Homo sapiens: one gene and its partner. The protein of the gene in region 2 interacts with the protein of the main gene of each other region in a pairwise test. Each region holds a gene or a part of one and is shown on either strand. Other genes may lie near its edges.

Region 1 (3,500 bases), on a different chromosome or scaffold from region 2:
TCCGAGGCATTTGGAGACTCCGCTAGATCGAGGAAGTCATCTCTCTTGTGACCTCTGAACCTGATTTTGTCCAACCTCCTTAGCATGTTCAGCACTGAGGTCCTCTGCTTCACCCTAACATGACGCTCGGGTTCCCTGCAAGAGAGGGGCGTGGTCACTCTCCCGCTCGCCACCTCCAAGCCCCACGAGCCAGCTCCCACACACAGGGCACAGCCGGTCCAGCTTTCCAAAGAAAACCCCGACCCAGAGACCCCGCCCTGCCACCGTCCCTCCCACACACACCTCCAAGCCCCACGAGCCAGCTCCCACACGCAGGGCACGGCCGGTCCAGCTTTCCAAAGAAAACCCCGACCCAGAGACCCCCGCCCTGCACCCATCAGGTGGGGCCCTTGGCCACCCCACCCAGGCCAGCCTGGTCAGTGCTGAGCTGCGTCCTTGCCTCCCACCAAGCGAGGCCCCCGGCTCCCAGCAGGCAGAAGGAAGCCAGGGTTCTCAGCCTGGCTCGGCGAGGCGGCGCGCAGGCGCAAGGGAAGAATGCTGCTCTGGCATTGGGAAGGAGGGCCAGCCATGCCAAAAGGTTGCCTAACAAACCGTCAAGAACGTGGTCAACACGACGGCCACATACACCACCAGGACGGCAGCCACGCCTGGAAACCAGCAGATGCGTGTGCTAGGGATGCCTCGGTTGATTCTCTCCTGGACCTAGGGGACCTGGCCTTGTGTCCCACCTGCTCCACCTGGCCCCGGCTCCCAGGACTCCGCCCACACTGCTCCCTCTGCCTAAAGCGTGTTCCTACTCGCCATGCGACCAGGCTCATACTCTGAGACACATTCAGATCGCACCACCTCCCAGAAGCCCTCCCAGAGACAGCGGGGTCAGGCACCCATGGCCAGCTGGGCCTCCTGTCCCAGCCCCCATGCCTGCCTCCTCCTCCAATCAACACAGAAACCTGGTCACACTGAGGTGCGAGTCACTGTGTGCTGCATCAGGACACGCGTAATTCACACACACCACGTGCCAAAGGGCGGATGTGCCGTGGGGTACTGCTCCCCACATCGCTGCCCGACCTGGCCAGCAACACCAAGGCACCCCCAAAAGCCTGGAGGCCAGGATCAGTGGCCCACAGGAGGGGCCAGCCAGGCAGGGAGAGGCCACCCAGCCCCAGCCCCATCACGCAGCTCCATGGCCTGGATGCCTCTCCCAAAACCCCGTCCCCAACTTGTCCAAGACAACTGGGTCCCCGTGGGAGGACTGCTCTGTACACACCTGGGCTGAAAGCCTGTCCTGCCACTGACCAGCTTTCTGAGCTGACATTTTTGCCTCTGAAAATGGAAAGATGCCAGTAAGGCAAAGGTATCCAGGAATTCAAGAAGACAGGGCAACTGGGCCAGGAGCAAGGAGATGGGGCGGGGAGTGATCCCTGGCGGGGGTATTTCCCAAACTTCCTGCTTGGGGCGGGCAGCATGGCAAGGAAGCACTGAGAGCAAGGTCAGCTCCAGCTCCTACATGCCTGCCCCGCCCCCAAAGCCTCCTCCGCTCTCCTCAGCATCACAGTTCGTGGCAAGAAGACTCATTAACAGTGAGGACCGAAGACACAGAACGCACTAGAACCCACTCTGAGCCACAGAGGCGCGGAGGTTCCCAGCATGGTGAGGGGAGGGGAGGCTCTCCTGGGATGGGCACTTGAGTATTCCTGATGCCGGCCCTGCTGCAAAACCCACAGGACGCTGGGCGCGGTGGCTCACGCCTGTAATTCCAGCACTTTGGGAGGCCGAGGCGGGCGGATCACAAGGTCAGGAGATTGAGACCATCTTGGCTGACACGGTGAAACCCCATCTCTACTAAAAATACAAAAAATTAGCCGGGCGTGGTGGTGGGCGCCTGTAGTCCCAGCTACTCAGGAGGCTGAGGCAGGAGAATGGCATGAACCCAGGAGGCGGAGCTTGAAGTGAGCTGAGATCCCGCCACTGCACTCCAGCCTGGGTGACAGAGCGAGACTCTGTCTCAAAAAAAAAAAAAAAAAAAATCCCACAGGACACAGGCTCTACGGGGAGCTGTCCTGATGCCCAGCATCCCCTGGAAGCTGGGAGGACCCCAGGAGGGGGATGTGGGTGATGGGGAGGTAGCAACTGCTGCTCATAGGCTGAGGGAGCATGAGCCAGCCATTTGGAAAAGCTTCCCATATAGGAGCTACAAATTGCAGAGGGACTAAAGGTTCAGTCAATTTAAAAACACACAAACCTTAAAAGAAAAGAGAACAGCTGGGAGCAGTGGTTCACGCCTGTAATCCCAGCACTTTGGGAGGCCAAGGTAGGCGGATCACGAGGGCAGGAGTTCGAGACCATCTGGCCAACATGGTGAAACCCTGTCTCTACTAAAAATACAAAAATTAGCTGGGTGTGGTGGCGGGCACCTGTAGTCCCAGCTACTCAGGAGACGGAGGCAGAGGAATTGCTTGAACCCGGGAGGCGGAGCTTGCAGTGAGCCAAGATCACACTATTGCACTCCAGCCTGGGCAGTGAGACTCCGTCTCAGAAAAAAAAAAAAAAAAAAAAAAAAAGGAAGAGGGAACTTAGTAGCTATGAAATCCCTAGAGAGAAGAAGATGGAAGAGTCTATATTAAGGGACTGAAAAAAAAAAAGCCACTAAGTAAAAATGTCTAACAGGCCACCAGGCAAAAGTAAAAAGCTCTCATTTGTAAAAAGAAAGTAAAAAATGTCAAAATACGCTATAAAACAAGGAATACAGGTAACAAATATGATACATGAAGGATTAATATCCATGTTACAAGACAACTTGACTAGGCCAGGTGCGGTGGCTGGCACCTGTAATCCCAGCATTTTGTGAGGCCGAGGTGAGTGGATCACTTGAGGTCAGGAGTCTGAGACCAGCCTGGTCAACATGGCGAACCTCCATCTCTGCTTAAAATACAAAAATTAGCTGGGCGAGGTGATGTGCGCCTACAATCCCAGCTACTTGGAAGAGTGAGGCAGGAGAATTGCTTGAACCCGGGAGGTGGAGGTTGCAGTGAGCCGAGATCACGCCACTGCACTCCAGCCTGGGCAACAGAGCAAGACTCTGTTTAAAAAAAAAAAAAAAAGGCAGCTTGACAATGTAGTCAATGTAGCAAAAATGACAAGACCACTTCCTAATACGCGAAAACCTTCAAGCTCACTAGAAAGGAAACTAGGCCGGGCATGGTGGCTCATGCCTGTAATCTCAGCACTTTGGGAGGCCGGGGCGGGCGGATCACGAGGTCAGGACATCGAGACCATCCTGGCTAACACGGTGAAACTGCATCTCTACTAAAAATACAAAAAAGTCAGCCAGGCAAGGTGGCGGGCACCTGTAGTCCAAGCGTCCCAGCTACTCAGGAGGCTGAGGCAGGAGAATGGCATGAACCCGGGAGGCGGAGCTTGCAATGAGCCGAGACTGCACCACTGCACTGCAGCCTGGGGGGCAGCGTGAGACTCTGTGTCAAAAAAAATAAAATAAAATA
Region 2 (3,841 bases):
GGCCCCTGTGGTTAATATCTTGGCGATTTCCTTACTCTTACGGGAAGTATTGTCAGTAATTTAACAAGGCTGAGGAGATCAGTCTCCCAGGGGCAGCAGAACAGACCACAGCGCTGGCCCCTCTGGGTCTGCCTGGCACGAAAGAGACAGAACGACATGTTTACCTCCCATTCTGGGCTCCCCCTAACATTGAATTTCTGAGAAGAACCCAGGGCCTCCTGAGAGGAGGTCTCTACAGCAGGTTACCTTAGATCAACCTGCCACTGTCTAGTGGTGGCTGGAGGCCATCCTGGCCAAAATGGGGACTTTGTTTTAGATCAGTTACTCAACTAGGTCCCTACTAGAGACTCTCTAGAATTCACGTTGGAAACTTGATTTCAAGCCTGGAATAGGAGAAGTCTGCAATGGCTAGACTGCAAGGCCGTGCTCTCTCATCTGGAATGAGAGCCAACCTTAGCCGCCACCTCTTCCTTCTCCAAGATATGTTCTGTGTCTCATAGGCGTCCCCAGTCACTTTCTTGTTTGAATATTAGAGCTAACAGGGGTCAGGGAAGTTTACCCAACTGTGTCCTCACCTCTAGTGCAGACAGGGACTTTGGCGTGGAAGACCCTGCGTGGGTCTGACAAAGCTCTTGGGGCACCACGGCTTTGTGGGATCATTAGGATCAAGAGAGGAAGCTGTTCCCCAGCAGCTCCTTCCAAAAAGCTGGGGCATTGCCCTACAGCGGTGGCCGCCATATCCTAACCCATTAATAACCAGTTGTCTGCAGATTTATCTTTTTTGTCAGTTCCTTCTGTCTGTCTCTCTTTTTCTTTGTCTTCTTGTCTTAGGATGGTTGAAGATGTGATGTCTGTGTGTTCTCTGTTGTAAGTAAATTTAATGCAATCTGCCTCTTATGCCAAATGTGCTTATTTTTCTGCCTTTTGTTTCTGCTTCCAAGCCATTTTTATTTCCCCTCTGGCTGCTACTGATGTGTTTCTGTGGTGGGCCTGCGAATGATGGGGCATGGGGCTCCCCAGTAGCAAAGATTACTTTTCTGTTTCATAGTGATTTGCATAAGAGACTGCTTGGCTGTGAAAATGTGATTATCCAGCATCTGCCTGCTTATCAGGAATGGAACTTTTTTCCTTCCCTTGCATATTGGATGTCTTCATCTGAAATCAAACATTTTTTTTAAACTCTTCATTACATTTTTTCATTTTAAACTGGGCTAGTGGGCGATTGCTTTCAACACTACTGTGGCTTCACGTTAAAATAACTGTCTGGTCTAACCACAGGCAGCGACGGCCACAGCTTATTCTTGCTAACATGTAAAGCAGAAATATTTGGGCCGTTCCAAATTGAGGCCCACAGAGTGCCCTGAAATGCAGGGTCAGTGCAGAGTGGAGCACACAGCTGTGAGAGCCATCGCCAGGCTGCCCCAGTCCTGCATCCTCAGTCACCCAGGACCTGGCTGGGTGTCGGCATGCCTTGTCTGCCATCTGTGGGTCACCCTGCCACTTGTCAGTAGAAACAGAGCTGACCATTTCTGTGCCTCTGCTGCTTTGCCTCCCATGGCCAGGAGGGATCTGTGGGCAGCTCGGGGGGGTCCAAAGACATGCAACTTTTCCCTGTCCTTAGAAGGGAAGCCGGCCAGTCCAGGTGGCCAGCAGTCCCAGGATAGGGTCGAGTCCATCAGACTCTCTTCTGCCCAAGGGATTTCTTGAGTATTTTTGAGCCACTTAGCAACTATAAAATATATGGTTATATATTTATATGCATGAATAAATATATGCTTCAAGCTGCGATTGCACTGTTTTAATGGCAAATATTATAAATGCTGTAAATAGCCATTTATTTTTTTTTCATGATTAAATGCCATTGTTGGAGTGATTTGAGAGAACACAAGGAAGGAACTTGAATGCCAAATTGCTCTGCCCACCCAGTTAACATGCAAAGCAGGGGAGGGTGGTGGGATCTAAGGAGAGGGATCACCCCCCAAAGCCTTTGCTTTGCTGGGAGTGGGACCAACCCATGGAGGGGCTGGAGACGGGGCAGGGGCCAGTCTACAGGGTGGAAAGAGCCCCCATTCTGACTGTGGAAGTGACCCCCAGACTGCTCGGTGGACTTAATGGAACTGCTCAGGCTAAAAGGCATCCCTTTCTCCTGGGATCTGCTTCCTTGACCCTTCAGGAGTCTGATTTGGTGGTTTCCTTTGCCTCTCAGCCCCGCTATTCATATGGAGGAGAAAAAGGGAGAGAAGAGCTGTGAATCTTGTCTGTTTACCATGGTTAGGAGAAGACAAAAAAAATCATCTCTCCCCTGGCCCTACCTTTAGTCAGGATTCCACCTAGAAGCCTTCAGAGCATGGGAATCCATTGAGCTCAAAGATCCTGTGATAGGGAGGATTCAGGAGGTTCTCCTTGAGGACCCCGAACTTTCTATTTCTGCGTGGCCCCCTTCAGTTGTTCATTAAGTGAGGTGTCGCCTTGCCCGTCTGTAAATTGGTGTCCTGAGCCTAGAGCCCCTCCCCTAGCCTTAGTTGGGTTCAGATACCCCTGGAAGAATCCAGATAAATTAATCTGCTCACCAGAAATTTGCTTTATAAAATACGAACATTTAGTTAAATTTAGCTTCATTTTCTGGGTCATTCTCCAAAATGGCATCTCTTTAAAGATCTCCAGCTTGATGGATCTTTCCCTTGGGGGCAAAAATAATAGCTGTTAAAAAGTGAGAGTGGGTAGCCGGCGTGGCCTCTCGCTGGTGCTGGAGTGACAGAGGTGGGAGGGTGGCCTGGGCCAGATGGCTCCGCAGAGGCAGTAGCTTCGGTCCGCTCTGTACTGCTCTGGAGTGTTCCGTCCCTCTGCTTGTTGTGTTTACGTTTTCCATTTTGTTTCCAGTGACACATTTAGGGTGAAAAAGTCGCCAAAACGGTCTCCTCTCTCTGATCCACCTTCCCAGGTACAGTGTTCCTTTGATCTTGATGGTTTTATGCCCCCCCCGGGGGAGGTTTTCTTCGCTTGTTGACAAAGCTTTGCTTTCTGCTCATCCCGGGCCTGTTTCCAAGACCCTCTTCTTGCATTCTGTGTGGAGGGTCCCTCGATGTTTGCTTCACATTGTTTTGGTCCCTTCACTTTGCGGAAGATCAGAGTGTGTCCCGAGAGTGGGAAGACGTTCAGGAAAAACATTAGTTGGGCTCTGGAGGACCCACTCTGCTCCATTCAGGCCAGTTCATCTGCTGTGAACTTCTAGGACTGTCGAGATGAGAAAGTCTCTTGAGATGAACAAATATGCAGTGAGAAGGTGAAGAAACTCAGCAAGTGTCAGGAGCACTGAATTGTGCAGCCAAAATTGGAGTGGGAAGAAAAGGGAAGCCCCTCCCCTAAAGAAGTGGGGCTTAGGTTCTGTCTTGATTAGAGTCCCTCTTACCAGTTCCTCCATCAGATAGATTCCATTTCTTCTACCCTGTTTACAGACCAAGGAAAGTTATCGTCAAGCCTGTCAGTATGTTAGGGCTAATTTCTGGGTCATAAAACAAAACAGACCTGCCACCCCTCCAAATCTGAGCCAGCAAAGCCCCAGCCTGCAGACCCTGGCCAGAGTGGGGGCAGTGGAGGGAAGCACTCAGCCCTGGGGATAGGGGCTCAGGTCCCAGCTGCAGCTCTGTCCTGACCTCTCTAGGTTCCCACCCTGCCCTACTCCACTTCCCACTCTCCAGTGGAAATGGAGATAAGATCCCCCTTTTTCTGCCTCCAGGGACTGATGAGATGCTTGTCAGGTGATTCTGGTGATATTGATGTGCAGGCCTGAAGCACTGTGTGAGCCTCGCACAGCAGTCACAGTCGTAAAACTAGCAGGAAT

Evidence for each region.
Region 1: the proteins of TACC2 (region 2) and GRAMD4 interact in a two-hybrid assay, tested with the Homo sapiens proteins (one large-scale study listed by BioGRID).

Annotation. Positions count from the first base shown.
Region 1 is NC_000022.11:46,623,386-46,626,885, reverse strand, and holds part of GRAMD4 (GRAM domain-containing protein 4), read right to left. Parts: intron 136-3,500; coding exon of another isoform or gene 87-135; coding exon 1-86. UniProt on the Homo sapiens protein: Plays a role as a mediator of E2F1-induced apoptosis in the absence of p53/TP53. Plays a role as a mediator of E2F1-induced apoptosis in the absence of p53/TP53. Inhibits TLR9 response to nucelic acids and regulates TLR9-mediated innate immune response.
Region 2 is NC_000010.11:122,212,511-122,216,351, forward strand, and holds part of TACC2 (transforming acidic coiled-coil-containing protein 2), read left to right. Parts: intron 1-831; coding exon of another isoform or gene 832-867; intron 868-2,880; coding exon 2,881-2,941; intron 2,942-3,841. UniProt on the Homo sapiens protein: Plays a role in the microtubule-dependent coupling of the nucleus and the centrosome. Involved in the processes that regulate centrosome-mediated interkinetic nuclear migration (INM) of neural progenitors.